5 separate regions of the Homo sapiens genome follow, and regions 2, 3, 4 and 5 are each linked to region 1. Evidence: fine-mapped expression QTL. A gene starts in region 1. Each other region holds a variant in brackets. All regions are shown on one strand. Distances are from middle to middle. Region 1 holds the start of ADAM10 (ADAM metallopeptidase domain 10). Region 2 has its middle 53 kb from the start of LIPC. Region 3 has its middle 75 kb from the start of LIPC-AS1. Region 4 overlaps ADAM10 (ADAM metallopeptidase domain 10). Region 5 overlaps LIPC (lipase C, hepatic type).

Evidence for each region. PIP is the estimated chance that this variant, and not a neighbour inherited with it, causes the effect.
Region 2: its variant is fine-mapped to the expression of ADAM10 in thyroid (GTEx, PIP above 0.99). The same link has a PIP of 0.9 or more in lung.
Region 3: its variant is fine-mapped to the expression of ADAM10 in whole blood (TOPMed, PIP above 0.99).
Region 4: its variant is fine-mapped to the expression of ADAM10 in whole blood (TOPMed, PIP above 0.99).
Region 5: its variant is fine-mapped to the expression of ADAM10 in fibroblasts (GTEx, PIP above 0.99).

The regions. Positions count from the first base shown.
Region 1 is chr15:58,747,501-58,752,606 of GRCh38, reverse strand. It overlaps ADAM10 (ADAM metallopeptidase domain 10), which reads left to right and starts at 2,900. Exons shown (of 16, transcript NM_001110.4): 1 at 2,900-3,127. The coding sequence starts at 3,073. RefSeq lists enhancers at 2,281-2,460, 3,551-3,680, 3,132-3,767 and silencers at 2,531-2,820, 3,151-3,440.
Region 2 is chr15:58,376,418-58,381,523 of GRCh38, reverse strand. No RefSeq gene overlaps it. Among named protein-coding and RNA genes, the nearest start is that of LIPC, 53 kb to the left of the region's middle. The variant G/T (reference allele first, on the strand shown) is at 2,545.
Region 3 is chr15:58,570,779-58,575,884 of GRCh38, reverse strand. No RefSeq gene overlaps it. Among named protein-coding and RNA genes, the nearest start is that of LIPC-AS1, 75 kb to the right of the region's middle. The variant A/G (reference allele first, on the strand shown) is at 1,928.
Region 4 is chr15:58,603,972-58,609,077 of GRCh38, reverse strand. The region is part of intron 14 of ADAM10 (ADAM metallopeptidase domain 10); the gene reads left to right. Among named protein-coding and RNA genes, the nearest start is that of LIPC-AS1, 110 kb to the right of the region's middle. The variant G/A (reference allele first, on the strand shown) is at 2,593.
Region 5 is chr15:58,467,935-58,473,040 of GRCh38, reverse strand. The region is part of intron 1 of LIPC (lipase C, hepatic type); the gene reads right to left. All of the region lies in intron 2 of LIPC-AS1 (LIPC antisense RNA 1), which reads left to right. Among named protein-coding and RNA genes, the nearest start is that of LIPC-AS1, 28 kb to the left of the region's middle. The variant C/T (reference allele first, on the strand shown) is at 3,083.

The DNA.
Region 1 (5,106 bases):
ATTCATTATCATGCTGGTATGTAATGCCATTCGTGCATGCTGGTATGTAATGCCATTCGTGCTTGACAAATAAAAAAAATACAGTTTTTCTTTTTTTTTGAGACAAGGTCTGTCTGTGTTACTCAGGCTGGAGTGCAGTGGTGTGATCACAGCTCAATGCAACCTCAACCTCCAGGGTTCAAACAGTCCTCCCATCTCGGCCTCCCGAGTACCTGGGACTACAAGTGCATACCACTGCACTGGCTATTTGATTTTTATTTTTAATTAATTAATTAATTAATTTTTTTGAGACAGAGTCTTGCCCTGTCTCCCAGGCTGGAGTGCAGTGGCGCCATCTCGACTCACTGCAACCTCCGCCTCCTAGGTTCAAGTGATTCTCCTGCCTTAGCCTCCTGAGTAGCTGGGATTACTTGCTTCAGCCTCCAGAATAGCTGGGATTACAGGCACAGGCCACCACGCCCGGCTTTTTTTTTTTTCCTAGCTCTGTCGCTCAGGCTGGAGTGCAGTGGCGCGACCTCGGCTCACTGCAAGCTCTGCGTCCCGGGTTCACGCCATTCTCCTGCCTCAGCCTCCCGAGTAGCTGGGACTACAGGCGCCCGCCATCACGCCTGGCTAATTTTTGTATTTTTAGCAGAGACGGAGTTTCACCATGTCGGCCAGGCTGGTCTCAAACTCCTGACCTCAAGTGATCTGCGGACCTTGGCCTCCCAAAGTGCTGGGATTACAGCTGTGAGCCCCGTGGCTGGCCAAAATAAATACATTTTAAAAATTAAAAAAAAAAATACAGTCTTTATAAATGTAATTTTCAGTAATCATCTTAGTAATGCAAAATATGGCTTTGGAGTTTTTTCCAGTTGAATTTTAAGGGAAAGTGCCATTTGCCTCTAATCACTGGAATTCATTATAAAAATACTGTGCAACAGAAAACATGCTATAAGGTGGTTTAAGAGCTGGAAAATAAAAATATCATTTGTTGACAGCACTACCACAAGAGATTAGTAAAAAGCACAGGTGATATGAGATGTAATGTCTGCAGGTAACTATTTCCTAAGACTGAATATTTTAATGAAGGAAAAAAAAACCATTCGTGAGATTCTGCCATCCTTTGATGATTCCATGTATCTCATTATAAATGGATACAATTATGATGGTTTTGAAACGTCCGTTTTTGAGCCTATTAATGTTGCAGCAAAACTAGAATCATTCATTTCTCAAACTGAGAATTAAAGAAGACTCTTATGGCCAGGCTCGGTGGCTCCCACCTGTAATCCCAGCACTTTGGGAGGCTGGCGGGCGGATCACCTGAGGTTGGGAGTTCGAGACCAGCCTAACCAACATGGTGAGACCCCGTCTCTATTAAAAATACAAAAAATTTGCTGGGCGTGGTGGTGCATGCCTGTAATCTCAGCAACTTGGGAGGCTGAGGCAGGAGAATCGCTTGAACCTGGGAGGCAGAGGTTGCGGTGAGTCGAGATCACACCATTGCACCCCAGCCTGGGCAACGAGAGCGAAACTCCGTCTCAAAAAAAAAAAAATTCTCTTCACTTATGTTAATGGTAATAAATGGTATAAAATATACAGGTAACAGTATAGGAATTCCAGTTTATTACAGTATCAATAACATTAAGGCCGAGCGCAGTGGCTCACGCCTGTAATCCCAGCACTTGTGGGAGGCCGAGGCGGGAGGATCGCTTGAGTTGGAGGTTACAGTGAGCTATGATCACACCACTGCACTTCAGCCTGGCGAGACAGCGGATACCTTGTCTTTAGAAAGCAAAACAAAACAATTTACACACACACACACACACACACACTCTCCCTAATTCGGCTTGAGTTGGAGGTTACAGTGAGCTATGATCACACCACTGCACTTCAGCCTGGCGAGACAGCGGAGACCTTGTCTTTAGAAAGCAAAACAAAACAATTTACACATACACACACACACACACGCACACACACACTCTCCCTAATTCGGCCTACTCAAGCACGATACCAAATAGATGAAGAATATCTAATTAAATGGCCATAAAAAGTTCTAGTTCATGACATCCAAGTTTAAAGAATCAAAATGAGTTACGAGAAAACAAACACAAGCTTTAAGAAGTTGGGGAGAAGATGTGCGTGGATTCGCTTCAAAGATGTGACAGAGAGAAAAGAGGACATTTTCTGGACTGGAGATTCAAGACAGTCTGGTTCAGGTTGCATGCTTTTGCAAAGGCTAAAGCCTTAGTCTGTGACATAAATTTGTAAAGAGCTCGGAAAATTACATCTCGGACATGGTGTCTTTTTTTCCTGCTGCTTGAAGGTCTTTGCATTTATGTTCGCATCACTGGGGCAGCTGCCGCTATAATTACTGCTTGTTGGGACTTTTTGTTTACTTGGTAGCTGTGGTGCACCAAGAGAGGCAGAAAAAGAAGAAAAAAAACCTCTGTTACTTGTGACGTTAAGAAGTCGAAAGCAGCCCTGCTTACATCTTCCACGGACCATTTTAGCCCAAGGGAAGGTCCTCAGCAGCTCTAACACGTAGCGGAGCACTATCTCCGCGTAGGAGCGCTCCCGCCCCGGGGCGGGACCAGGACAAACCCCGCCTCCCAAGCCCAATCCCAGCTCTCCGCCGGCGGACAGGAAGCGGCGGCAGGCCTAGCAGCACGGGAACCGTCCCCCGCGCGCATGCGCGCGCCCCTGAAGCGCCTGGGGGACGGGTAGGGGCGGGAGGTAGGGGCGCGGCTCCGCGTGCCAGTTGGGTGCCCGCGCGTCACGTGGTGAGGAAGGAGGCGGAGGTCTGAGTTTCGAAGGAGGGGGGGAGAGAAGAGGGAACGAGCAAGGGAAGGAAAGCGGGGAAAGGAGGAAGGAAACGAACGAGGGGGAGGGAGGTCCCTGTTTTGGAGGAGCTAGGAGCGTTGCCGGCCCCTGAAGTGGAGCGAGAGGGAGGTGCTTCGCCGTTTCTCCTGCCAGGGGAGGTCCCGGCTTCCCGTGGAGGCTCCGGACCAAGCCCCTTCAGCTTCTCCCTCCGGATCGATGTGCTGCTGTTAACCCGTGAGGAGGCGGCGGCGGCGGCAGCGGCAGCGGAAGATGGTGTTGCTGAGAGTGTTAATTCTGCTCCTCTCCTGGGCGGCGGGGATGGGAGGTGAGGCACGACTGCGAGCGCCGGGGGCGCCGCGACCACGGCGGAGCGGCGGCCGGGCCGAGCGGAGCCCAGTCGCGCCTCGCGGCGTGCGCGTCAGTCAGCCCAGCCGGCCAGCGGCGCCACTCTGGCGGGCCGCGCTCCCCGCTCCCTATTGTCCCCCGCGCCCCGACCGCTTTCCCTTCGGTGGCGGGCCGAGGAGGCTCCCAAGCCTCCGGCGAGGCCTTCCCCGCCCCCCACCGCCCTGGCGGCCCCGGGAGGCGGGGGTCGCCTCCCAGAGAAGCGAAGTCGGGGCATCCGCGTCGCCTGGTGAGAGCGGTGGAACCCAGGCTGGTGGCTGCATCCCTCCAGTCTGCTCGGCGGGCGCCGGTGCAGGCAGCCGCAGCGAGGCTGGCGGTCTCGCCGTCCTCGTTCAGCGCTCATCCTGCTCACCATTCCTCCCCCAGCCCCTGCCCGGTGGCGGATTCCGAAGTCCTCTCCGCCGCCGAGACCCGCCGCGCAGACTCGTGGGAAGTTGTGTTGTTTGCAGCTGGGCTCGTGTATTGTTCTTTACCCGGCGCGCCGGTCCTGACCGACCCCATTCTGCAGAGGGGCCGCCCGTGGAGTGGCAGCAGTCATCACCCGCTTATCTGAGACTAGTGGCCTCGGTTCTTCCTGTGTCCTGTGTTTGGAGAGAGATCACAGGAGGGTGTGTTGGTGTTCTTGAAAACATTCTGTCGCCCAGGGGAAAGGGTTTGGTCGGGAGAAGGGTAAACCATTTGGGGATGTTCTTTGATTTGTAGGCTGGATTGGGTCTCTTAGAGTAGAAGTTCGGTCCCTGGGTGACCCAACTTGAAGAGTTTCGTTAAACTTTCAGGTGGAGTAGATGTACAGTGTAGTTAGTGGATTGTCAAAACAGTGCCCCCTCCCCCCTGCACATGAAAGTCAAATTTGCTAAAAGCATGTCATTTCTTGTTTCGGGTTTTGAAGACAACGATTTTTATTTCCGGTGTGTTCTAGGACCAGCTGCATCATTTTATTCTTGCTTAAAGTGCTTTATTTTAGGTAAGCTTTTTGACTTGCCCCAGAGTAAACTTAAAAACCTCAAGGTGTGCCTAAAAGCAACGATTGAAAAAATTTGAGGAATGCTTTGGATGAGTGTCTGTAGCCTTTGATAATTTAGAAAATATCTATTTCATGTAATGTATTGTTTCTGTTTTTTTCTTTGCCACTTTGACTTATGACTGCAGGACCAAGTGTATTTCTGTCCTGTATTCTACCGAGTCCGAGGGTGGTACTGCGTAGGCAGACTTCTGTTATAGTTTGTAGTGTTCATTTTTTTGTTACACGTTTTATTTAATTTTTTTCAATCCAATTCATCAAGCAAGACACACATTATAGATTAAGAGCTGATAATAGATGTTTAGTTTTAAAAAGGATTATGTGCGGGAGACTCTCTGTTAGAGGAGCCTTTTTCATCTGACATTTGTTATTTCTGTTCTAAACGTGGCTTTCAACAAATCGTTTTCCTATCTTTTTTCACTTTTTGTGATTAAATTCAGGAGTTAAGACACTGTTCTCTATAAGGTAATAAAAAGTAAGACAAACACATGAGGCACTTTACTGAGTAGTAGTATACTAAATGTTCTTTTAAAAATAATGAAAACAGTAAGAAACTGATGTAGTCTTATATTTGAAGAAAAAACAATTGAATAACATGTTTGTGGGTTAAAACTCTTATACAAAAATTTTCTAAATTCATATTTCCAGAGTCCTTTATTGCATTAAGCATTGGTTAAAAGGCTAATTTTTGGTGTTTTTGTTAAGCAGAACTTTTTCAAAAAACATAAGACAAGTTTTATTAGTTTTATTTTAAAATTAGTATCAAGATTCTAGCTTTTGGGTACTTGGAGATACTTGTAATTTTATTGTAACTATGGGGTATTTTTATCTACTAATCTGAGCTATTTTTGGTCACTTGTAAGATCTTTGTATGATGATTT
Region 2 (5,106 bases), 370 kb after region 1:
TTCCTGAAGGAGAAAGAAAAGAAGGAAGTGTTACCATGATTATATCAATAAGAACATAGAAATAATTCAGGAAAATGTTCAAATTCCCTAGGGTCAAGACCAGGCCTGTGTTACCTATGTTAAGGGAATAATTTAGTCTACAAAAACAGGTAAATAGTTTTGCTACAAGTAAAAAGCTGATGTTCCTAGAAAGTCTGGGCCAAAGATGGATCAGCCCAGAACATTTGTCTTAACAATGAAATAAGTAATCACAATCAGACACTTTTTTTTTTTCTTTTGAGACAGAGTCTCACTTTGTCACCCAGGCTGGGGTGCAGTGGCCCCATCTTGGCTCACTGCGCCCTACACTTTCCAGGTTCAAGCGATTCTCCTGCCTCTGCCTCCTGAGTAGCTGGGACTACGGGGACACACCACCGCCCCCTGCCGCCCCCCAGCTAATTTTTGTATTTTTAGTAGAGACAGAGTTTCACCATGTTAGCCAGGCTGGTCTCAAACTCCTGACCTCAAGTGATCTGCCCGCCTTGGCCTCCCAAAGTGCTGGGATTACAGGCATGAGCCACGGCACCCAGTCATCAGACACTTATTTTGTAAAGAATTATTGAATTCACCCATACATGGTCTGTGTGGATATAGTCTGGAATCCAGGTGAGAACTGATGGAGTATTTATGGAGAAATGGCTGATTATAGGACAAGGATTTCTAAATATTCTAGGGAACTGACTAATATTTCCAAAGATTTCCTATTCTCCAAGCACAGGAACCAGCTGGAGTGGAGCCAAGGCTCAGGCTTGGTCGGGGCAGAGCAACTCCTCTATTTCACTTGTTAGATGTCCTAAACCATTTTGTCCAATGTTATTGATGCAAATTGGTGGTTGTGATGGTTAATTTTATGTGTCAACCTGACGGGGCCTTGGGTGTCTAGACTTTTGGCTAAACGTTATTCTGGTGTATCTGAGAGGATGTTTTTTGATGGGACTAACATTTAAATTGATAGACAGACTGAGTAAAACAGATTGCTCTCTCTAATGGGGCTGGGCCTCATCCAATCAGTTGAAGACCTGAATAGAAAAAAAAGGCCAAGTAGGAGGAAGTTCCTTCTGCCTGACTGCTTGAGCTGGGACACTGGTCTTTTCTGCCTTTTGGCTCAGACTAAAACATTGGCTGTTTTTGGGTCTCAAGCCTGCTGGTTTTTGGACTAGAACTTTCACCATCTACTCTCTCGATTCTCAGGCCTTCAGACTCAAACTGGAACTATACTTTGACTCTCCTCAGTCTCCAGCTGCCTGACCACAGATCTCGGGACTTCTCAGCCCCCATAATCTTGTGAACCAATTCCTTATTTTATATATGTATACTGTCATGCTCTGCATAATGACATTTAGGTCAATGATAGATCACATATACAATGGTGGTCCCATAAGATTATACTACTTTAGCTTTTCTATGTTTAGATATGTTTAGATACACAAATACTTACCACTGTGTTACAACTGCTGTCAGTATTCAGTACAGTAACATGCAGTACAGGGTTTTTAGCCTAGGACCGATAGGCTCTATCATATAGCCTAGTTGTATATTTGACTGTATCGTGTAAATTTGTGTAAGTACACTTTATGTTGTTCCTGTAACTGAAATGCAGATCCAGTCATTCACTGCTTGCAGAGTCCAATTAACAAGAGTGAGGTCTGATATAAAGGAACTGCTTTATATTCTATTATAAAGACACATGCACATGTATGTTCATTGCAGCACTATTCACAATAGCAAAGACATGGAATCAGCCTAAATGCCTATCAGTGGTAGACTGAATAAAGAAATGTGGTACATATACACCATGGAATACTATATAGCCATAAAAAAGGAGTGAGGTCATGCCCTTTCCAGAGACATGGATAGAGCTAGAGGCCATTATCCTTAGCAAACTAATGCAGGAACAAAAAATCAAATACTATGTGTTCTCACTTGTAAGTGGAAGCTAAATGATGAGAACACATGGACACACAGAGGGGAACAACACACACTGGGGCTTATTGGAGAGTGGGGGTGGGAGGAGGGAGAAGATCAGAAAGAATAGCTAGTGAATGCTGGGCTTAATACTGGGGTAATAAAATAATCTGTACAACAAACTCCCATGACACAAATTTACCTGTATAACAAACCTGCGCATGTACCCCTGAAATTAAACTAAAAGTTAAAAAAAATTCTTCCAATCTATGAACATGAGATGTCTTCCCATTTATTTGTGTCTTTTAAATTTCCTCCATCGATCTTTTATAATTTTCAATGTACAAATTTTTCATCTCTTTCGCTAAGTTAATTACTAAGTGGTTTCTTTTCGTTGCTAATATAAATGAGATTGTTGTTGGTGTATAAAATCACCATTGATTTTTGCATCTTGATTTTGTATCCTGTAACGTTAATAAATTTGTTTATTAGTTCTAAAAAAAGTGATATATTATATTTCAAAGCTAGCTTAGGGGAAGAAGTACAGGCTTCTTGTCTTAAGGGTAGCAGGTGCAGAAAGTAGGAATTATTTTAAAAGGG[G/T]GCTTGGCATGAATGGCATGCAGGGGAGAAAGCAATTGGATGGAGGTCCACATAATTCGCTTCAGTGCCTTATCTACTGGGCCATTGAGCTGGCGCCTTCATGGGCAGAACTAGGTTTTAAAAGTGTCTGAAACTCTCCAGGTGGGAGAGAATTTTGTAGTGGGCATACTTAGGCTTGTAAATTGAGTGTTGCTCTCGAGGCAATCTTCAGCCGGGAGAGAGTTCCACTCTGGAGCCCCTAAGCATATAGTTAGATGAACTTGCCCTGTAGGGAATGTCTGGTGATGGGGAGGTCTAAGTAGGAAGTGAGGAACAGGGGAAAAGGAGAAAGGAGAAAAGAAAAGAAAAAAATCATTCTGTTTTTCTTAGACGAATGGGAGTACTTGGTTACATTCCTACAATGACAAAGCTGCCTTCATGACTCATTTCTCAGAAAACAGTGCTGTAGTTAAGCGATGCATGACTCTATCTGTCTATCTATCTGTCTGTCTATCTATCTATCTATCTATCTGTCTATCTATCTATCTATCTACCTATCATCTATCTATCTATCTAATCTCCTATTGGTTCTATTTCACTGGAGAGCCCTGCCTAATACAGTTGTTTTAATTATTCCTCATTTCCAATGTACTTTCCTCCTTGACTTTCATTATGGGTGGAGCAGGCTCTGTTTGATTCTAAAATTATATGAGGAAAATATAAAGAGATAACCACAAAATTGCTAATTTTTTTGGTGGAGGGAATCTGTTATGTGGATAAAGGATTAGTCTTAATACTATATTCAAGTTAAGTTATTAATTCACTGAATTTTTATGGAGCACCTACTGTGTGGTAGGACTATTCCAAAGAAGCAATGATTTCTGCCCTTGTGTATGTATGTTTTATTTTTATTTTTTAATTATTATTTTCTTTGAGATGGAGCCTTCCTCTGTCGTCCAGGCTGGGGTGCAGTGGCGCGATCTCAGCTTACTGCAAACTCTGCCTCCTGGGTTCAAGTGATTCTCCTGCCTCAGCCTCCTGAGTAGCTGGGACTACAGGCGCCCACCACCACGCCCAGCTAATTTTTGTACTTTTAATAGAGATGGGGTTTCGCCATGTTGGCCAGTCTGGTCTCAAACTCCTGACCTCAAGTGATCTGCCCTCCTTGGCCTCCCAAAGTGCTGGGATTACAGGCATTAGCCACCCTGCCAGCTGTGTGTTTATGTTTTAAACAAAGGATAGAGACAATAAGCATGATAAATAAGTCTAACTATATTGTGTGTTAGAGAAAAATAAAGCAGGAAAGGGGAGTGGGGAGGGGTTCAATTTTAAGTAGGGAAGTCCTAAAGGGCTGCATTGAGAACTGTATTAGAAAAATGACCTGTACGAAAGTGTATTAGCTTCCTATTGTTGCTGTGACAAATGACCACAAACTTAATGGCTTAAAACAACACAAATTTATTCTCTTAGAATCCTGGAAGTGAGAAGTCCCAAATTGGGCTCCTGGGACTAAAATTAAGGTGTCAGCAGGGCTGTGTTTCGTTTGGAGGCTGTAGGAGAGAATTCATTTTCATGCCTTTTCCAGTGTCTCTAGGCTACATTCCTTGGCTTGTGGCCTCTTCCTCCATATTCAAAGCCAGCATTATCAGGCCAACTCCTTCTCACACTGTCATTTTTTTAGTTCTTGTTCCTTTGCCTCCTTCTTCCATTTATAAGGACTCTTGTGATTTCACTGGGCCCCCTTAGATCTTCCAGGATGTAGAATACCAAAACTATGCCACTCCAAAATACGACTGTAGGAGGCCAGAATGTGCTACTCCAAAATATGCCTCTTTAGCATGAGGATTATTTTTGAGCTAATTATTCTAAGAAACTGTAGACACCAGAGTAACTCTAAAAACAAAGAGTAGAAGTTACCCTTTTGTAAGGGAATTGTATTTTCTAAAGGAAATCCCCATTTGTAAGGTACCTGCTCTGTACCAGGAAGAGAAGAAATCCTCCAAATCACTAGAGACTTTTCTCAATGGAGAAGGCACTGAGTAAATCCACAGGAAAAACCTTGCTCTTATTACTGTGCTTTTCCTGACCTCCCCAAAACTGGCGCCCTTCCTTCCCCTCTCATCCCCCTCTCCCTCCCTCCCTCCCTCCCTCCTTCCTTCCTTCCTTCCTTCCTTTCTTCTGAAGATGACATTTGACCTGAACTAAAAGCAACTTCTTGGAGATTTACTCACTTTTCCCTGGGTATCTTTCTTGTATATATATAGTAGACCTGTTAATAAACTTCTGTTTGTCTCTTGTTAATCTCTTTTGTTACAAGGGTCCATGCCAATAAAAACTCAGAAAAAGGGGAGGGAAATTATTTTTCCTCCCCTATAAGGATAATCTCATCTCAAGTCTAGCTAATTACGGCTGTATCAATTTGTTGGGGCTGCTGTAACAGAGTACCGCAGACTAGATAGCTTGAACAACAGACATTTGCTTGTAATTCTGGAGGCTTAAAGTCTGAGGGCAATGGGTTGGCAGGGCTGGTTTCTTTGGAGGTCCCTCTCCATGGCTTGTAGATGGCCACCTTCTTTCTGTCTT
Region 3 (5,106 bases), 180 kb after region 1:
GAGTGTGGATAAATGCTTGTCTATGTTCGAAGGAATAACGTTGCCAGGCTGTTACCAATCTTCACTTCGGGTCGCTGGGGTGGGGAAGAAGGTGGGTGCGGGGAGACGGATGACCAGCTTTCTCTTTACATATCTTTGCATTGTTGCACTGCTTTTATACTCTTATAAAATATCTTTAAAATGAGAAACCTAAAATAACCACATAACAAAACCTAAAAATACATTACAACTTCTGCCCTCAAGGGGCTCACAGTCTCCTGCAGACTGTCTTCAGATAGCTGATGTGTTTGATTTGCTCTCTATGGCTTCCAGGGAAGAAAGCGAGGGGAGAAGGTACGGCAAGGTAGGGGAAGCTCTTTCCCTGGCGGTGCTGGGCCACACCTGTGATATTCTCTTGAGAGGAAGGTGTTGGACTCCGTCAGTGTTGCCCCAGTTTTCTGAAGAGATGAATTAGCCCGGGTACTTGTTGAAAAGAAAAATCTTTAGGATCTGTCCTTGACCCGCTGAATTCGAATCTCCAGGGGAGGAGTCTGGGAAGCTTTATTTTTTAGTGCCCAGGTGATTCATATCATTGGGGAAAGTTGGGAAACACTGGTCTACATTCACGCTGCTCAGCGTGGCCTGGGAACCAGCCGCAATGGCATCGCCTGAGAGCTTGTTAGGAATGCCTGCTGTCAGGATGTGCCCCAGACCTACGGTGACAGAAATGCCAGTGAACAAGGTGCCTGTGCACAGAATGGGTTGAGAGGGATGTTGTAGATGACCCTTACAGTTATTCTCTAATTCTATCTTATTTGACAGGAAGATAGCTCCAAGACACTGGAAAATTCTTTTTGTGATAGACGTGTTTCAAAAGTAAAAATGTAGTCAAGGAACCCAAAGGGATTTTGATGAACTGATTGAGGCAGAAACTGAGCTAACGTAAGAGGAGGCCGGCAGGGCCAAGAGATGAGGGAGGGAGGAAGTCAACCGCCTCGCCAACCTGGCTTTGTTTCTAAGCTGAATGAGGAAGCAGTGAACTCTATCTTGGACAGGTGTGGTAGCTGAAGCTTCTGATTTAATCAAGAGGAAAAAAATACAGATAAGAAGAGATACCTGTCACTTATTAACTCAGCAAGCATTTACAGGATGCCAACTCTGTACCAGGTGATAGGCTGAGCACTGGGAATAATGCAGTGAACAATGAGAGCCTCTCCCTGACTTCACCAAGCTTCAAGGCCAGTGGGGGAGAAAGGCAGTAAAGAAACCATTTCAAAGATCAGGCCTACGGCTAGGGTAAAGCTAGTGAAGCACTTGCCTTGAGTGCAAAAATGTAAGGGGGCTCCAAAAACTCAGTTATCAAGAAAATTTTTAATGCAAAAATTTTTCTAATGGAAATGAATGCAAAAATCTATGATACATAAAATATAAACATTTTGCTGTCATGGTGGCTCACATCTAATCCCAGTGACTTGGAAGGCTGAGGCCGGAAGATTGCTTGTGTCCAGGAGGTTGAGGCTGCAGTGAGCTCTGATTTGGCCACTGCACTCCAGCCTAGGTGACAGCAAGATCAGGCTGGGTGCAGTGGCTCACTCCTGTAATCCCAGCACTTTGGGAAGGTAAGGAGGGTGGATTGCTTGAACCCAGGAGTTCAAGACTAGCCTGGGCAACCCTTGTCTTTATAGAAAATATAAAAATTATCTGGGCTTGGTGGCATGCACCTGTAGTCCTAGCTACTTGGGAGGCTAAGGTGGGAGGATCCCTCGAGCTCAGGAGGTTGAGGCTGCAATGGGCTGTGATCATGTTACTGTACTCCAGTCTGGGTAGCAGAGTGAGACCCATCTAAAAAATAAATATATAAATAAACACAGGTTCACTATTACTGATTTTTCCTTTTGCCTCAGGCTCCAATGTGGCTCTGCATGGCATGGCCACAAATCATTTCACC[A/G]GGAGAATAAAAAAACATTGACTATGGATGGCAGGGTGAGCTGCTTGAAGCTCGGGTAGGATGAGATAATTGTTAAATGATCTCCCAAGCAGTAACACCTAACTTGGAGCTGCAAGCATGCAATGGAGGAGAGGTGGGAGTGTAAGCAACAGAAGGGGCCAAGGAGAGAGCTTTGCGCTTTTGAAGGAACTGAGGTGGCTGGTGTTGTCTAGACCTCTGGGTTTCAAACTTAGTGCATATTAGGATCACCTGGGGAGCTTTCAACAGTCTTAATCTCCGGGCCCTGCCCTAGTCCAATTAAGTAAAAAATCTCTAGGTGTGGGGCTGAGGCAGGGCTAGTTTTTAAAGCTCCTCAGGCATTTCTAAAGTGCACGCTAAACCTGGGCAACATAGTGAGACCCCTGTCTCTACAAAACATTTAGGAATTAGATGGATGTGGCAGTGTGCACTTGTAGTCCCAGGTACTCGGAAGGATGAGCTGGGAGAATTGTTTGAGCCCCAGGAGGTCAAGGCTGCAATGACTGTGATTGCACCACTGCATTCCAGCCTGGGTGACAGAGTGAGACTTTGTCTCCAATAAATATATAAATAAATAAAAATTAAAAATAAAATGCAGGCTGGGCGGACACTCCGTGGGTGGAGCTGGACAATGGCCTAGTGAGTGACAGACAGAGAGTAATGGGAGGCAAGACTGGGGAGAAAAGTAGGGGCTTGACTGGGAGCCTTGAAGGCCAGGGTAATTATTTTGGACTTTTTCCAAAAAACGTGGGAGGTCATTGGGAGGGCTTTATGCAGGAAAATGATATAACCTTTTTTTTTTTTTTTTTTTTTTAAGATCACTCTGGTCGCTGTGAGGGGAAGGGATTGAGAGGGAGGAGGGTGTCTGAGGGATGAGTTGGAAAGTTGTTGCAAATGTCTGGGTAAGCGATAGTTCGGCTTGGGCTGGGTTGATGGCAGTAGAGGTGGGGAGACATAGACACGCTTAAGAAATAAGAGTAGAATTCATGGAATATGGTGATCATTGGATTGTGAGGGGCCAAAGGGGAGGACACATAATGGATGACTCCCCAGAGTCCACCACCAGCAACTGGGTGGGTGGTAATGACCTTCAAGGAGATAAACAACAGAGAGAATGGGGATGAGCAGGTTCCAGGGGCAAGAAACATCATGCATTCATTTTTGGATGCAGGGAGAGATGACACAGCGGGAACTGTGGAATGGACAATTGCATAATATATGGGAATACGGGTCTGGAGAGAAGGCCCAGGCTGGAGCTCTACACTGAGAATGGTTGGCCTATGTGGTTGATCATAAATAAAGCCATAGGAGTGGGTGAGATTGCCTATAAAGAGAGAAACGTGCGAGTAGGGAAGGAGGTCTGGGCTCCCCTGGAATGGTTGAATGGAGGGCAGGGAGCAGCAGGGAGGCTGGGAGGTTGGAGGGGAATCAGCGGGGCACAAATAACTAAAGGCCAAGTGGATGGCGGAGAGCGTCACTTATGTGATTGCCAGGCGCTCAGAAGAGAGAAAGATCTCTGTGGCCTGGCCAGGCTAGGAGGCAACTGGTGAAAATAACTGGGCCTGGGTAGATAAATAGGACTAAGTTAGGCAGAGCAATTCCAGGGGAGAAAAGAAAAGGAGGAAGGGATAAGAGAAGGGAAGGAATGAGATGTGTCGGGAGCCATTAATCATGTACGGATCATTGGGATTCAAATAGAAGTATGTATTATGGGACCATGTAAATGGTCCCTTTTGGGACTGACTTTCTTTAGTCTTCATCTTGCTTGTCTATTTCCCATCCCTCTGACTTTACTTTGGTCCAGCCTCTGTGGGAGGGCAAGCACAGCACTGGGCAGCTTTACCCCTTGCCTTGCTGCCCCACAGACGTGTATTGCAATCCAAGCTTTTGCAGTATTTGCGGCCGACATGACTCAAGGTGAACATTGAGGACAGGGAGCTTTGCGATGCAGCAGAGTGCGTTCATTTTAATGTTGAATGGAGTGCTTGTTTCCTTCTCTCTCTGACTTACTCACCTCAAAGAGCCCAGCTGCAGTGTAATCGACATTCCATTTCTTTCCCAGTGCTCTCTTACAAGAGAAGCACAAATAAGCTTTTGCCTAAAAGGCAAGATGCTAGTGTTATCTTTCCTGAGTGGGCTCATAAATGCAGATTCTTTGGAGAGAGGTGTGTATAATCAGTTCACGAGCCAGCATTTTGCATGTGCAACGAACAGATGTGACTGCATTATTCAGTTTCCCAATTTGACTTCCCTACTCGAATATACTTAAGAAAATGTGATGTCGATGAACACATCCCTCCAAGTGAAAATAATCCACCGACAACAGAATTGGCAACCAGATTTGGACATGCCAAGAGGAGTTTCAAATGTTCCAGTTAACCACTTGTCACGTTGGATGCTTGTTGAATTCTCTGCCCAAAATGTTACCATGTATTGTGGCACTTCAAGTTTTCTTACTAAAGATGAAATAATTTCTAATTATATTGCTTGTGAAACTATATTACTTTTGAAACATATCACACTATAGTAGAAACATGTTTGTTTAACTCTGCCCTTTATTTTCCCTTTTTAATTTTCACATTGTGAAAGGTGACATTCATACTAAAAAGTGCGTGAAATGTAGATGTATATAGAACGGTTAAATCAGTGAACGTGTGTGTACCCACCACCTGGAGTAAGAAGTAGACTATTGCTGGCACCTGGAACTCCAGGGTGCCCTTCCTCTTTCCTGGGATTATCACAGCCTCACTTTTGTGATAATGATTTTATTGTTTTGTTTCCTTTTGTGATAATGATTTTATTGTTTTGTTTCCTTTTGGTTTTTTTTTTTTTTTTTTTGAGACGGAGTCTCACCCTATTGCCCAGGCTGGAGTGCAGTGTCGCGATCTCAGATCACTGCAACCTCTGCCTCCCGGGTTCAAGGGATTCTTGTGCCTCAGCCTCCCAAGTAGCTGGGATTACAGGCATGCGCCACCATGCCCAGCTAATTTTTGTATTTTTAGTAGAGACCGGGTTTCACCATGTTGGCCAGGCTGGTCTCGAACTCCTGACCTCAATTGATCAGCCTGCCTCAGCCTCCCAAAGTGCTGGGATTACAGGTGTTTATCCATTGTTTGTATCATACTATACCTTTTTTTGTGTCTTTGTGCAAACGAAAAATG
Region 4 (5,106 bases), 140 kb after region 1:
ATTCTGTGACTTCAAGCAGCTTACCTTTCTTGGCCCTTCTTTATTTTCAACTCAGCTATTTTTTTTTCTGATTGTCTCTAATAAGAAAAGTTGAAATTTGGTATACTTGTCTGCTGTAGAAGACAGTGTATACAGAAAACGAAAGGAGATCTCAGAATTACATTCTACTGAGTATATATTGTGCTAGATATTTTAGATTTTTGGGGTACTAAGTCATATCTAAACATAGCATTTTTTTACTTTTCTCTGTTATCTCTAATTTTCACTCATTACATTATTTAGAATTTCAAAAGCCCATTTATTTTCACTTTAAAAATATTTAATAGACATGATCTTTTAAGTATTTTTAAGACCTTTTCTCCCCATATTTTAGATGTGAGGATTAATGAAATGTTTCACAATGAATTGGCAACATGAAGTCCTTTCTTGTGCTCTGGAACTAATTAATCAGACACTTTCAAGTTCATAGACGTTGACTTTAAGTGTGTGTGGGATAGAACATGCCTTTATTTTATATCATTGTTGACAGGCATATGCCAGTCTTTCGAATAGCATGCTCATAATGTGTGAAGAGTACCGCTAGGCTGTTGGTGCATTTGTGGGCATTAACCACATCAAGCAGTAAGATAATAAACATCTGGTCTTTACAAGTTACTTGTCTCATTTGCTTATGTGCATAGTTTACTTGCATACCGGGATTTATCATGTTAGGGAAGTGCCCTTCCAGTTAGTAATACAGATTATCAGGATGCTCTTGTGTAAGAAGCTGTGAAAGAAGTGAGGGGTTAGTTTCACTACTTTCCTTTCCAGTGGTGCCTGGTGGCGTTTTGTCTTCTTTCTGTGTTACACTATGGCAGCTTTTCTCCTCATGCAGGGTAGAGTAGGAAGAACCTTAACAATTTAGAACTTCAGGGCATGGGTTATTGACTGCTGCTACTGGTACCACGGAAGTGATACTTTCTTTTCTGTGTTGACAACTATGTTTTGATTTTTCCAAATACATTTACTGTATTTGCTGAGTGCCTACTGTGTGTTTGGACAGGATAAAATGATAAACATCCTTTGGATTTATCAAAGAGTCATCTAGTTCTTGAAACATTTAAGAGCATTCATCAGTAAATCTGTTGAGACCTTATTTCAGCATCTCCTTTTCTTTAATTAGGGATTGAGGGCATTGGTAATTCATTTCCAGTTTCTTCTATAGTTGATGTGTTCTGATTTTCTGTATCTTTCATGTTAGGTTTGACATTGTAGAAAACTACCTCTTACCTTGACTTTTATTGTTCAAATGTATTGTTGTGTTTCCCCTCCTTTTAAAAATCATTGCCTGATGATTTTGTGGCTTTTTTCTTTTTAACTTGTTCAGATTTATCAGGAGTTTGTATTTTTGTATTGCTAATTTATCAAGAGTCAAACACATTCTCATTTTAAAATTAGTTTCTGCTGTCATATTTTGCTATAATTTTATGCATCTAAGTAGTAAGTATCTGGTATTCTTTATGAATGAAAGATTTAGAGCACTGTTTCCCAAATGCTTAACAGAACACTAGTTCCATTAGATGTTCTGGGCCTTCAATGGTCAAATGAATCTGGAAAACTACTCCATACTATAGACCTTTCTTGGAGATTTGTGAGAAGACCTGCAATAAATAAATCGTTTAAACTTCATTTTCCAAACTTACCTAACCCTAGAAACTTTTATGATGAAAAGACTAAGTCCTAAATATCCTTAGATGTCATTTGGAAAAATATTGATTAATAGCAGTAGTTCTCAATCCTGATTGTATACCAGAATCACCCTAGGGTTTGGACTAATTAAATCAGAATCTCTTGGGTTTAAGTATCTGGGTCTTTTAAAACTCTCCAGTTAATTCTGATGAGGAGCCAGGGTTAAGAACCACTCATCTAGAACAGGGGTTGGCAAACTATGGCCCATGGGCCAAATCCAGCCCGTGCCTATTTCTGTATGGCTCAGAAGCTAAGAACGGTTTTTACATTTTTAAATGATTGAAAAAAATTTAAAAATTATCAAAACATTCTTTTAAAAATCATATGAAATTCAAATTTCAGTATTGATAAATAACATTTTATAGGAACATGGCCACACCCATTTGTTTACACATTGTCTTTGGCTGCTTTTGCACTTTGAGTAGCTGCAACAGTGACTGTATGGCCCCACAAAACCTCAAATGTTTATCTGGGCTTTTATGGGAAATATTTGCCAACTCCTGATCGAGAGCGGTGATCTCAAAGTGTAGGCCTGAGAAGCAGCATCAGCATCACCTGGGAACTTCATAGAAATGCAAATTCTTACGTTCCATTCCAGACCCACTGAGTCAGTAGGTGATGGTGCGTGCTAATAGTTTGTCTGCCATTTTTTTCAGTCTCTGTGATATGTGACTCCTTTTTAAAAAGACTTGTAACAGAAATTTTCCATTTTATCATCTTGATATGTTGAAAATAGAAGGTGGTTTCATTGCTTTGTGGAACAGACCACATAGCATAGCACTTAATGAAACTTTAACAACAAAGATATAATGATATTGTAAGGTTTTCAGCATATAGTGAGGACACAGTATACATTTGCTAGAT[G/A]AATGAAGCAGATTTCTCAAATGTAATAATTTATATGGAAAAGAGTAAAACTTGTGCATATTAACTTTGAAACTGGAATGTTTTCAGGTTCCTGTTAGTGGTATTTTATCTTACTTGCCCAGGTTGAGCTTAAAGTAACCAAAAGTTTAGTAGCAAGTTGCTTTCTGCTTGGCAGATCGCTGTTGCTGCTGCTGCTAGTGGTGGTGGGAGTTTGAAGGATAGGAGGAGTATATATTCAAAGCCCAGACTATAGTATTATGTCTTCTGAAAAATTGAAAGGAAACTTTCTGCCCCTATAGGGATGACATAATCAGTATCATGGCAAGGAGCTCTGGGCCCCACATGGTCTTGTGACCCATGGGAAGTCCAGAATGCATTTGCTGAGAGTGAGCGTTGTTGAACACTGCAGTATTCATTGAAAGGATCATATGGTTGACTTTCTGGAGGTCTTTAAGAACAGTAGATTATCTTATGTCTGAAGAGACTTGAGTGCATGTCTTCCCTGTCCTCGCTCATGCACTTTTTTTTAGATGATACTTGCTTTGTCATTTTGTTACCATATAGGTTCTTTTTGTTTATATTTAGATTATCAAATTAAATACTATTGTAATTAATACATAATAAATTAGACTATTTAATTTTGACTTTTTACTTTATTATTGGCTATGTTTAAGTGCCTGTATTGAACATCATCTCTCTTTTTCTTATGTAGAATTATTTTCTGAGTTGAGAAACTTCTTGAGTTTTTGAAAAATGGTTGGATGTCTTCTCTTTGTCCCTAAAGTTTTGCTTAACACCCTTGTCTCTGGGATATAAGACCCTGGCACTCAGTTTACGCTCAGTAAATGTTCATTGAATGAATGACAGCTCCCCTTTCTTTCAGACTAACAGGTGGGCAATTTGTGATCTTTTCTTTTGAGAGAAATGCATATTTTACATTTACTACCCTAGTTAGTATTCCTTTCCCTGATTTTATAGTATATTTAAAGGGGATAGCATGTAATTTAGCATTTAACTCATTCTTTTTTTAAAAAGGAAAACTATAAAGGTGGCCGTACTTACTAATATTTTCAGATGCACTATTTATTTTGTTTAGTTTTTCTTACTGTCTTTTGTCTATTGCCATGTTCCATTTCCCCACACGCTAAATTCACAAAAGCTACTATCATTGGCACTAAAACATCTCAAGCATTGGGCTTGTGAGATACATAGTTACCTGAAAAAATTTAGAAGAAAGCCAGGAACACTGTGCTAGAAGGAACTGGAAGTTCTGAAGGGCTTGAGTGCCATATTTTATTATACATCTGTTGATCTAAACTGCGACTAGGTTCTTTTTACCTTTGTTTTCTACAGTTTTAACCACTACTAAATCTGGGCTTTCTGTCTCCAATCTGCCTCTCTTACTGCCATAGCGTGTACTCGTATGGCTCTTTATTTAAATCTATAGGCCAGGTACAGTAGCTTATACCTTTAATCTTAGCACTTTGGGAGGTTGAGGAGGGAAAATTGCTGGAGACTAGCAGTTGAAGACCAACCTGGACAATCTAGCAAGACCTGTGTGTGCAAATAAATAAATAAATGAATTCGCAGGGTGTGGCGGCATGTACCTTGTAGTCCCAGCTACTCAGGAGGATCACCACAGCCCAGGAGGGCAAGGCTGCAGTGAGCCGTGATTGCACCACTGCATTCCAGCTTGGGCAACAGAGCAAGATCCTGTCTCTTAAAAGAGAAAAAAAAGAGTGTGTAGGTACTAAAAAGACTATCATTAAATATATCCAAACCAGTTTTACTGTCCTATCTCTGTTGTAACGGCCTTGTCACATTATTTGTATGTGTTAGGCAATCTGGAAGTAATAAATGAGCTGTTAGTTATGTTTCAAGGTCAATATTTAAATAATGACTTACTTGTAATAACTAGTTCAACAGGTATTTTGTTTGTTGGGTAGGTACTGAGGTAATAGGATATAAGTCCAGGGAGCTCACAGGTCAGTTTGGGATAGAGAAGACAGGCCAGAGAAACATATCTTCAGTCTGTGTGCTGTTTTCACAGAACTGGGAGAACCTATTAGGAAAAGCCTTTAAGGAGATAACGCCAGAGCTAAGTTCTTTGTTTATTTTTATTTTTGAAATGGAGTCTCACTCAGCCACCTAGGCTGGAGTGCAGTGGCGTAATCTCGGCTCACTGCAACCACCGTCTCCCAGGTTCAAGCGGTTCTCCTGTCTCAGCCTCCTGAGTAGCTGGGATTACAGGCACCTGCCATCATGCTTGGCCAATTTTTGTATTTTAGCACAGATGGGGTTTCACCATGTTGGCCAGGCTGGTCTTGAACACCTGACCTCAGGTGATCCACCCGCCCCGGCTTCCCACAGTGCTAGGATTACAGACATGAGCCACCGTGCCCGGCCAAGCTAAGTTCTTAAGAATTAGTAGAAGTAGAGAGTACAGAAATATTTTATGGGGACAGAGCATGTGAAAAAGTCACAGAAGTATGAATTTTGCAAAACATTTTTTTC
Region 5 (5,106 bases), 280 kb after region 1:
CGTCCAGCTCCCCTCTGCCAGTGCTAGAGGGTAGGGTGGTAGTGTTTTCAAAGTTAACAAAACCATGCCCCTTTCTGAGTGAAACCCAAGTTCAGATGATTCCCTTCCCCTCTTAGTAACAGCCGTAGTCAGACACACCTGGGTTTGAGTCATGGCTTAGCCCTTGGCTAGCTTGAATGCTCTAAGCCTCAGTTTCTTGGTAAAATGGGGGCAATACTAGCAAACCTCATAAGGCCGTTGTGAAGACAACATGGAATACAGTGGGTGAGTACAATGCTTAGCCCCATGCCTGGCACTTACTTGCCTTTATTTTTTCTGATCTAAATTATTACAATGATTTAATTATAATTTTAAATTTATACAATTTGTTTTATAATTCTTTAAATATAATTATATCTATTTTCCCTCTCCCACAGGCTGTGAGCCCCTTGAGGGAAGGGGCAAGATTTTTTTTTTTTTTTTTTGAGACAAGAGTCTCACTCTCTTGCCCAGGCTGGAGTGCAGTGACAGGATCTTGGCTCACTGCAACCTCCATCTCCCAGGATCAAGTGATTCGCATGCCTCAGCTTCCTGAGTAGTTGGGATTACAGGCGCATGCTACCACACTTGGCTAACTTTTGTATGTTTTGGTAGAGACAGGGTTTCACCATGTTGGTCAGGCTGGTCTTGAACACCTGGCCTCATGTGATTCACCTCCCTCGGCCTCCCAAAGTGCCGGGGTTACAGATGTAATCCTGCTAAGATTTCTTTTTTTTTTTTTTTTTTTTTTTGAGACCAAATGTCACTCTGTTGCCCAGGGTGGAGTGCAATGGTGCAATCTTTGCTCATTGCAACCTCTGCCTCCCAGGTTCAAGTGATTGTCCTGCTTCAGCCTCCCGAGTAGCTGGGATTACAGGCACGTGCCACCATGCCTGGCTAATTTTTTGTATTTTTCGTAGAGATGGGGTTTCACGATGTTGATCAGGCTGGTCTTGAACTCCTGACCTCAGGTGATCCACCCACCTTGGCCTCCCAAAGTGCTGGGATTACAGGCATGAGCCACCACACTTGGCCTGATCTAAGTACCCAGTAAATGTGTAAGGGGCTGAGAAGGGTGAGCTAATGCCTTTATGGCCCCAAAGAGCTATGTCCCCTGCCCTCAGGGAGCTTCACTGGGGAGCCCAAGGGTCATTGAGAGGGGTGGGAAAGGGCACGTGGCTGGACTGGTAGGGCAGTAAGGGCAGTTGTGATTGGGTGAGGAGGGTGGAGGAACTCCAGGTGCCTGCCCTTTCTAAGCCTCTCTACATAATAAATATTGAATAGTCATGCATTTCTATTTGGCTCAATTCATTCATTTGGTTGATTCAGAGTTTTGGAGCACTGACTCCAGAAGTTTCTTTTAGGCAAATCTCCATTCACTATTCAGCTCACCCCTAGATTACTGCAGTGTATGGCACTCAGACTGCCTCTTGCTGCTGCCATGACCATGACAGATAAGGCTAATGGATTACAGCATTCTGTCACCCTTAGCCTGATGTAATCTTAGAGTTCTTCTGCATAAAGCAGCCATTCCTGATGGAATAGAATCCTCACTTGTGTTTAAAGCTACTTATCAGCTGGGTGTGATGGCTCACACCTGTAACCCCAGCACTTTGGGAGGCCAAGGCTGGTGGATCATTTGAGGTCAAGAGTTCGAGACCAGCTTGGCCAACATGGTGAGACCACCCCCCCCCATCTCTACTAAAAATACAAAAAAAATTAGCTAGGCATGGTGGCGAGTGCCTGTAATCCCAGCTACTCGGGAGGCTGAGGTAGGAGAATCGCTTGAATCTGGGAGGTAGAGGTTGCAGTGAACCGAGATGACACCACTGTATTCCAGCCTGGGTGACAGAGTGAGACCGCATCTCAAAAAAAAAAAAAAAAAAAAGAGAAAAGAAAAAAAAAATCCTACTTACCATCTCTGGCCTAGACCTTAGGTCATTGGGTATGTCCTGAGGCCTCCATAAATTTCAAACCTTATAATTTCTCCTGCAAAAATACTACCATGCTTCAATTCTCTCCACCTTTCTTTATGGAAGCTTTTCTTACCCATTTCTAGAAAGATTAGAGAGGTGTTAGGTATTAGGAAGATGAAAAGGAGGCAGACAAAAGGACGAGTCTTCCTCTATCTACTCATACTTTCAAGGTGTTTGGCAAAATCTGAAGTTTTGACTTGGGCGGATCACGAGGTCAGGAGATCAAGACCATCCTGGCTGCTAATAGAGTGAAATCCCATGTCTACTAAAAATATAAAAATTAGCTGTGTGTGGTGGCTGGCACCTGTAGTCCCAGCTACTGGGGAGGCTGAGGCAGCAGAATGGTGTGCACCCGGGAGGCGGAGGTTGCGGTGAGCCGAGATCTCGCCACAGAACTCCAGCCTGGGTGACAGAGCGAGATTTCGTCTCTACCAAAAAAAAAAAAAAAAGGAGTTAAATGCAATTCTTTCTGTATTTTTGTCTTTTCCAATTCTGTATTAAGCATGTACTACTTTTCAAAGTAGGAAAAATGTGTTTTATAAAATGAGTAATTTTATGAAAAAGTAATTTTAAGTTACATTTAACAATTGAGTAATTTTATTAAAATTTTTATTTAAAATTTTATAAAAATGCTTTTTACTTCAAAAACTTCATAAAAATTTCTTAGACTTATTACTATATACCCTTTCATACCTTTGTGACTATAATACCTAATAAAAAATAAAAGCTGGTCTTTGGTTTTGTACATAGGAAACACCCTCTTCTCTGAACAAATCTCTCATTTACAGTCTTTTAAAATTCAAAGAATGCATTCCAGCTGGGTGCGGTGACTCATGCCTGTAATCTCAGCACTTTGGGAGGCTGAACCCGAAGCACTGTTTGAGGCCATGAATTTGAGACCAGCTTGGGCAATGTGGTGAAACCTTATCTCTAAAAAATTACAAAAATTATCCGGGTGTGGTGGTATGTACCCGTAGTCCCAGCTACTCAGGAGTCTGAGGTGGGAAGATCCCTTGAGCCTGGGAGGTCAAGACTGCAGTGAGGCATGATTGCACCACTGCACTCCAGTTTGGGTGATAAAGGGAGAC[C/T]TTGTCTCAAAAAAAAAAAAAAAAATTCCATGAAGATGAGGAAGGTGATGGAATGTCATCCAGCATTGAGAAAAATGTGACGTGCCCATCAGCTCCTCTATTCTCTTGGGGGAAGTGCTGCCGCGGGGAGGTCCTAGCCATTGTTCCATTCCTTTCTTGCATCTTCTCAACGAGCTTTGTTAGTAACTGGAATCCACTGGGCCACGTTTTTAGTAGAGGGTAGGGTCACTTCACTCAAGGAGTTTTGCAACGGCCACAGTGTTTCTCTGCTCTGGGCTGTAAAGCCTGGTGGCCAGTCCTCCCGAGGGCAGGCCTGAAGGTCCCAGTTCTCTTACCTGTCTATCTGCCTGGTGACTGGGTGAATGGGCAGCCCCAAGCTTCTCAGCTTCCCTGCCTGAGCCAGGTTGGAAAATGAGGGTGGCCTGTTTTTGGGAAGCTGGTGATCTTTAATTGAAAGGGGGTGGAGCAGAAAGCATCACTATGGCTTTGAGCCCAAGCCAAATCCCCTCTCCCACACTGAGGAAGAGGAGAAAAGCTGATTTTCTTCCTTTGTGCTCTTCCTTTGGTAATCAGTACTCTAAATGGTTGAGACCCAAGTGGGCCAAGAGCTGAGCTGAGAGTTCTGAGTACTCCAACATGCTCAAAAAACTATATTCCTTAGGGTGGGTATGGTGGTTCATGCCTGTGATCCCAGTGCTTTGGGAGGCTGAGGCAGGAGGATTACTTGGGCCAGGAGTTCAATGTTAGAGTAAACTACGATCATGCCACTGCACTCCAGCCTGGGCAACAGAGTGAGATCCAGTCTCTTAAGGCGTACACACACACACACACACACACACACACACACACACACACAAAATGTTCCCTGAAGCCGTTTAAGTTATTAGAAAAAAATAGAACTATGGTGAACTAATGTTTAATGCTTACCATACCTCATCATGACGTTTTCAGATCAAGTGGGATAGCTCTGGGCAGTGGAGCTTAGGTACATTAAGCAAATACTTCATAAACGTTAGTAGCTGTGCAAACAAGTGGGCATGAGGTGGAGGCTTGACCAGCCAGAGTGTCCAAGGTTCATAGGGAGGAAAGGAGCCAATTTACTGGACCTGGGTTGTTAAACACATAAACCCTTAATGAATTAAAAATATTACCAGCCTAGCAGAGTTCCATGGAGTCTGGGTGGCAGCTCTGTAGTTCTGTGGTTGTCAGTCCAGGCTGTCTTTAGATCTGAACTGGTCTGGGGTGGGCCTTTCTGTTATAAGTTCCCTAGATGATTCTAATGAGCTTCCAAGGGTAAGAACCTCTGCCACAGTTAAATGGTGTCACTATGTATTAATCACAAATCCCCTGATAACGTCACAGGGTTGGACAGCTTAACTCATGTTAGGAATCACATTGAGATTTGTGGACCATCCATCTCGAGTGGGCGGCAGGGCTAGATCCAAAGGCAAATTAGTATTCCATGGAGCTTTGGTTCTCAAACGGGTGTGCATCAGAATCTTCTGGAGATCTTGCTAAAACCCAGATTGTGGGCCCTCATTCTCAGAGTTTCTGATTCATTAGGTCTGGGGTGAGACCCTAACATGTCTAACAAGTTCCCAGGTGATGCTGATGCTGCTGGTTTGGGGACAACACTTTGGGAATCACTGTCATGGACATAGGTGTTCACTCTGAGAGGCGCTGCTGGGGAAGCAGAGAGAGCAAGGGTCTGGGAGGTGGCCGTGACCTGGGTTCAGGTCCATGATTCATGCAGGTGCAGTATAGACAAGGGTAAGCCAAGTGATCTCTTTTGAACCCAGTATTCTTATCTATAATCTGGGGTAATATTAGCTGCTTTGCCTTTCCCCAAGCATTGAGTGGGATAATGAGTAATCACTGGGCTTTTATCATGTACCGAGCATTTTACATGCATCATTCCCATTAATCTTCTCAACATTTATAGGAAGTGGGTCCTATTATTTTACAGACCCAGAAACTGAAGTTTAGGAAGCCTCAGTTCTTTGTTAAGAGCGGTCCTTGTGTTA